2 linked regions of the Homo sapiens genome follow. The protein of the gene in region 1 interacts with the protein of each later gene in a pairwise test. Each region holds a gene or a part of one and is shown on either strand. Other genes may lie near its edges.

Evidence for each region. The genes of interacting proteins can lie anywhere in the genome.
Region 2: the proteins of BDKRB2 (region 1) and CLCA4 interact in a two-hybrid assay, tested with the Homo sapiens proteins (one large-scale study listed by BioGRID and IntAct).

What each region holds. Positions count from the first base shown.
Region 1 is NC_000014.9:96,207,839-96,211,338, reverse strand, and holds part of BDKRB2 (B2 bradykinin receptor), read right to left. Parts: intron 1-3,500. UniProt on the Homo sapiens protein: Receptor for bradykinin. It is associated with G proteins that activate a phosphatidylinositol-calcium second messenger system.
Region 2 is NC_000001.11:86,550,078-86,553,577, reverse strand, and holds part of CLCA4 (calcium-activated chloride channel regulator 4 precursor), read right to left. Parts: intron 1-3,500. UniProt on the Homo sapiens protein: May be involved in mediating calcium-activated chloride conductance.

The DNA of each region.
Region 1 (3,500 bases):
GTGCAGCAGCGCATGCACAAGGTGCAATCTCCGAGGCTCCGGGAGAACCCCAGAGAGCCTCCCTCTGTGGTCAGGGAGTGACCCCTGCACTCTTAGAGCACAGCAGGTGCCAAGCATGAGTGGGTGCTAGGGGCTGAGGGAAAGGCCCAGTCTTTTCCCTCGAGAGGATTCCTGTTTGGTAGGGATGGCGGGGCACAGCCTGATGCTTCCCGAAATGTTTGGGCCCAAATCTACCTTGAAAGGAGCTGGCTGTGAGCTGTGTGCATTTAACAATCTGTCCATTTAAATTTTTGTGGAGATGGGCAGTTTGCTAATAACTTGGATCGGGGAGGGTTTCTGTCCTTTCCTGAGGCAGCAGGCACATGAGCACAGGTGCCAGAGAGTGAAGAACAGGTTTGGGGTCCCCAAGTTTTTTGGCTGGTGGGACTAGGAGGAAGGGCCTGAGGAGAGTGGCTTTTGGGTCCAGGACAGACCATTTGCTAAGGTAGCTTGTTTCAAAGTGTGGCTGAAATCCCCTGAGATATTAGCAAGTCCTTGAGTACTGTAAAGGAAAACAGAAATCTTGGGACCCCCAAACTCTTTATGCCAAAGGGAAAGTTAAGCCTGGAGACTGAGTCAGCCAACATTGTCATCCTTATTCCTAATGACAGCTGTTACTCCACAACCTTAGACATTAGCCAGACCCCCACAGAAAGGAAAAGGCCTCGGATATCTCCCCATGACTGCCCCCACAAATTGTTCTTTGCTGGGTGAAACCTTTCAAGATGTGGATCTTACCACAAAACAAGGACACATCAATTGTAACTTGAGGTCTGCAATCCAAGCCTAGCTCCTCACACTCAAGTCTGTTAGAGTCACGCTGATGGTGCTGATCTCCCCAGGTACAGCATAAAAGCAAGACAAAGGCAAGATGAGATCAGGCCTCCTTCTGCCTAACCTCCTCTTCCTACATGCTTTCTCCACTTCAAGGACATGTGTAAATACTGTGAAAGAAAAATAAAATTAAAATCCCCAGACCCCAAACGCACTAAGCCAAAGGGAAAAGTCTAGCTGGGAGCTGGGTCATGCAACCCGCCTCCCGTTTTGTGTCTAAATGGATAACTATTTACTTCCCTCACATTTTGCTCACAGTGAAATTCCTTGTGGGCCCCAGGATCTTTGCCTTCAAGCAGCTCTGTTGTATTTCACCCTCATGATATAAATTAACAGCTTAGCTTCACAGGTATGGAACAAAGGATAGAACCCAAAGTCATCCCTCTGCTCACCTGAGACGAGTGCATAGCTGACAGCTTCCTATATGCTATGATGATGATGATGATGATTATTATTATTATTATTATTTTGAGATAGAGTCTTGCTCTGTCACCCAGCCTGGAGTGCAGTGGTGTGATCTCAGCTCCCTGCAACCTCTGCCTCCTGAGTTCAAATGATTCTCCTGCCTCAGCTTCCCAAGTAGCTAGGACTACAGGCATGCACCACCGTGCCTGGCTAGTTTTTGTATTTTTAGTAGAGACAGGGTTTCACCATGTTGGACAGGCTGGTCTCGAACTCTTGACCTCAGGTGATCCACACAACTTGGCCTCCCAAGCTGCTGGGATTACAGTTGTGAGCTACCGTGCCCAGCCCTATGATTATTTTATCTTATATAAAAATGCAGATTGACTGAGCACCAGGTGAATGCGGAATTGATGATTCCTCCACCTGCTTCTTTCACATGAAAAATGTGCATTCAGTGAAGTTAATGAAAAGGCTCAAAGGGGTGCAACTGCTTGCCTCTTTTGGCCACCTTCCCCCGATTTTTCCTTCTTTCCCCTACTGCCTGCTTTTTTCCCTTTGAATAGTGAAGACCCTTCTTTGAAAGAAGCATGGGCCAGAGATGTTTCCTGTGATTTCGTGTCCCTCTTTCCTGGGTGCATCCTTAATCTTGGCAAAATAAACTTCAAAAATAATTGAGACCTGCTTCAGTCAGTTTCTCTTTGATTTACAACACTAAGTCTCATGACTCTTCGGAGAGCATAGGCCACACACATTTTCTGTGGCTCATGTTTTTCCCAGGTGCACCCTCAAACTCTCGATAAATGTCAATTGAAGTTTATCAACTCGATGAACCTTGATTGATTGAGATTTGCCGCAGTCTGTCATTTCAGTGAATAGTACCCAGACTTCAAATCACAGTCCCCAGAGCAGGACCCCCGCACCTGCGTGGGTGACCAGTCTCCAGGTGATTCTAAAGTATGACAAATTTTGGTCTTTCTCCGGCAGACCACCCTGCCACTGGAGTGTGACCACTTAGGAAACCCGCAGGGAAGAGGAGAAGCGACCTCATGACCATGATAAGAACCACAGAAGCGACGGGGCTGTGCTGGAGCCTGGCACTGTACAGGTCACAACACCCCACGGGCGTCCCCTCAGGCACTGCTCATTTCCAGATGTCACTCAGCTGGGCCACTTCTCTGTGCCCCACGACTGCCCTTCACCGGTGGCACAGATCAGAGAGGCTCAGAGGGGTTGGCAGTGAATGGGATGGGACAGGCCGGAGTAAATCTAAAGTTTGAGCCCTGAAGAGAAGCGTGAGAAGGACTCTTGCTGTCAGTGCCCACAGGCTCATTGCCTGGACACAGGAGTGTGTGCATGTCGGACAGGGCTTTTTTCTGGACACCCTTAAGCGGCCATGGCCTTACTGCAAAGCAAATGCAACCTCTGTGACCGCCCCAGGCCCTCACTCCTGCCTCCATAGACAGTCCGTCTGGTACCTGAGCTCCTGCAGTGTGCCTGACATCCCCTTTCACTACATCAGCACAAACAGAGGTAAGCCTCCTAGTGGTCCTCAAAAATAGGAATGATGCTCCCCATTGTACAGGAGAAGAAACTGAGGCTCAGATAACTTTCCTGGCCAGTAAGTGACGGTGAATTCGAACCGAGAGCTGTTTGTTCCACCGTGCTTTCTGCTGTGATGACTTTTTTGGAATGTGTGTGGGGAGGGGGAGGCACATATGTTTCCAGCCTCCAGAATCTTCCAGAACCCACTGTGATGAAAGAGTCAAAGAAATACTTCATGCCTTACGTTTGTTCTAGAAAACAACCCTGGAGTGGGTGTTTTGGGGAAGCAGAGCCTTAGGTCCCCAGGAAAACCAGAGGAGCTCAGAGGAGGAATTGAGGATTTAACACTTTTCAAGGGGGGCAGATTTAGTAGCTGTGGATATTTAGCTCAGAGAGAAGCAATAGGACTAGAATGGTACAAACCCCAAGGAAATGAAAGTGGACCCATTGCTCAGTGGGGGCAGTTGGAGGAAGAGCTTTTAAACAGTAGAACTCTCCTAAGATGGAATGCGCTGCCTCGCAAAGTAGTGAGCTCCCCATTCTTGGAGGCATGCACACTAAGATGGATATTCATGAGGCAGGGGATTCCTGGACCCAATGGATGTCAGAAGTGATGCATTTGGGGTGTCAAGTCTTGGCAGGTCTGATTGTTTGACTCATGACCCTGAGGTACCGTAATT
Region 2 (3,500 bases), on another chromosome or scaffold:
AGGCCCCGCGCTGGCGGGCGCTCCTCCCTGAGCGGCGGGAAGCAGGCGGCAGCGGCGGTGGCGTCGGCTGAGCAGAGGACCCAGCGGGCAGACTCGCGGGTCGGACAGGATCGTCGTGACAAAGGCTTCGACAGCTTGCTGGAATAGAGGATCTCTGCTGCCTCGCCTCTTCTGTGGCCTTCGTGTGGGATGCACGAGACGGCAGGACCCAGATAACCGTTCTCTCAAAGACACAATGTTTGCACGAGGACTGAAGGGGAAACGTGTTGGCCACCAGGAAGACGTGGAGGGAGCCCTGGCCGGCTTGAAGACCGTGTCCTCGTACAGCTTGCAGCGGCAGTCCCTCTTGGACATGTCCCTGGTGAAGCTGCAGCTTTGCCACATGCTTGTGGAGCCCAACCTGTGCCGCTCAATCCTCATTGCCACGTGGTCCGGCAGATCCAAGAGGAGATGACGCAGGATGGGATACGGCGCACACCCCAGGCTGCAGGGTGGGCGCCGCTGGACCACTTGGTCTTCATGGAGATTCTGTGCCGCGCGGCGTGGGAGCAGGAGGGGGCACGTCCTGCCTCTGGCTTGGGAGACGGCCACGCACAGGGCTCAGTTTCTAACCTTTGCCCAGTCACCTCAGCACAGACGCCGAGGCACCCGCAGAGGGAGGAGCGTCTGGGAGATGGATGGCCCTCAAGAAAACAGAGGAAGCTTTCGCAAATCACTCGATCAGATATATATGAAACGCTGGAGACTAAAATCCCCCGCTACATGGAAGAGCTGTTTTCAGGCGTGGACAGCCCCTACTACAACCTGGACACAGTACTGACAGGCATGATGGGGGTGCCGGGCCGGGCCCCTGTGAAGGGCTCGAGGGCTTGGCTCCGGTCACCCCGTGCCCCAGCTCCATCTGCAAGTCCGATCTGGGCGAGCTGGACCACATGGTGGAGATCCTGGTGGAGACCTGAACCAGAGCCCTGAGCGCTCGCAGCTGTGTCTGACGCGTGGACACGTGAGCACTGGCTCCCGTAGAGGGTGCGCCTGCCGCCCGCTGCCCAGCCTTGCTGCCCTGTCTGCTGATTCTGAGAAATCCCAGAACAGACCATCATCAGCAGGGTCTGCAACCCCAGGCCCGTCCCACTCACTTTCCCCGCTGTGGAGGGCCAGGCAGAGATGGCTGTTCTCCTGGAAGACTTCTCCTCTCTGGACCGGTCCTGACGTCCTTACAGCCCTGGGCCCTTCGTCTCTCTTTGTGTCCCCCACTGTAGAGGACGGCGAACCACAGCTGCATCAACCTCCTTTACATTCAGACAGGTGATTTTTTTACAATTCAGTTTTAAGTGTTTTGGGCAATATTTTGTCTTAAGATACATATTTTTAAACTTTTTATACCTTATGTCTTTAGATTTTTTCAGCTATTTTCTTAAAAGTATATTTTTTCTATAAATATCCTTTGCTGCGACATTAGAACTTTTATAGCCTGAACAATTGTAGTTGGTGTGTTTCATTTTTTTCAGGTTTAAATAAGGGATTTTTTTTGCAGTGGGCATCACTACGGTCCTTGTCAACAGTGTGAGTGTATCATGTTTTACTTTAAATGTGCGTGCAATACTTCTCCATTATGTTCTGTGCTACCGTGAGACCTGGGTGAAACTCAAAAACCGCACACAGCTACTACATTTTTTTTGTCATTAGAAAATCTACTGTGGGAGCCACATCTTCCTAGACTTGAGCATAAATTATGGAGAATTTTATTTATGTCTATTTATGTGTAAATGTCATTGAAGGCAAAGGTCAAATATTTGTCTGTTTGGAGATCACGGGCACCAGTTGGTCTTCAGGACCTCAGAGACCCTCCGTGGTGCCTTCTGACAGGCGGTGTTCCTGAAGGCCTCCCGTCAGCCCAGGCACCTGCCCTGGCTGAGGAAATAGCATTGCTACTGGATTAGAAATGCCTGTGCTGCTCTGTTAGATTGGTGCTGGAACAAAAGGTTAAGGCTGAAGTCTAGAATGAAAGAAATCCGAATCCCTGTCATTCATGGCCCCTTGATCTGTAGGGTCATAGGTGCTGCCTCAGGGAGTGAGCTGGAGGTGCCTGCAACCTTCCTCTCCTGCCCCGCCTCACCCCTCTTGTGTTTCCTGTTTCTCATGCTTTTTCTAACTTCCTCACCCCTTAGCCAAAAAGGTTTGTTTTCTTTTGTGGATACAGCCATTCTTAAATATCAGTGATGTAAACCTCACTTTATTAAAAAATTATCCATCAAAACAAAACAAAACAAAGGTAAAGAAAATAGACAAGGCATAAGGATTTTTAAAGTTTTGGGTTTTTTAAAAGCAAGAATTGAAATAAAAATAACATAATGAACGAATATAACAATGATTAGCTAAACTATTAATATTTGGTACACAAACTCATTTTGGATAAAAACTGCATTTTCTTAAACATTAAAAAAAGAGGCTGGGTGCGGTGGCTCACGACGGTAATCCCAGCACTTTGGGAGGCCGAGGCGGGCGGATCACGAGGTCAGGAGATTGAGACCATCCTGGCTAACACGGTGAAACCCCGTCTCTACTAAAAATACAAAAAATTAGCGGGGCGTGGTGGCAGGCGCCTGTAATCCCAGCCACTCGGGAGGCTGAGACAGGAGAATGGCGTGAACGTGGGAGGCGGAGCTTGCAGTGAGCCAAGATCGCACCACTGCACTCCAGCCTGGGGGACAGATCGAGATTCTGTCTCAAAAAAAAAAAAAAAAGAAATGATCCCTCCCTAGACCTTATTATCTCATGAGGAAATATAAGGATGAAAGGCACTTTTTTTTAATTTTATTTTTATTTTTATTTTTTTGAGACAGAGTCTTGCTCTGTCACCCAGGCTGGAATGCAGTGGCATGATCTCAGCTCACTGCAACCTCTGCCTCCTTGGTTGAAGCGATTCTTACCTCTGACTGTGATACTTACTATGATCTTAGAAAAATCATTTTTTTTTTCGGACCCCTAGTTTTTTCTTCTGTAAAATGTGGATTATAGTATTTCATAGGGTTTCTTGAAGATATTAAACGCGAAGATTTTGTGAAGGGCTGGGAGAAATGTCAGGAAACATTGTAAAATCTGGGCATGCCTGTAAACAATTGAATTTCTGCTTGTACTTATAGAGGACCATGTTTACAAAATTTTTGCCCATCCAAGTAATTCTTTCAAATAGTGATGTCTGAGTAAGAAAAGTTTGATACTGATTTACTGTCCTCTGGACACTAAAAACCTATCATTCAGAATTAGCTGCATTAACTGTTCTTTAAACATCTTTAGTAAAATGAATTATTATCTTCTCATGAAATTTAAAAGGTACCTATAAGCAAATATCTTTGTGATGTAACAGAGTTTATAGAGAGTGAATGACAAATGGCAGCCACAAAATCACTTGATTACAACTTAGTTCATGCCTATCACCTTCTGCTGGGTAATTAAAACATGCAGAAGGGTCCAACCATAAGCAGCAGAACACAGTAGTG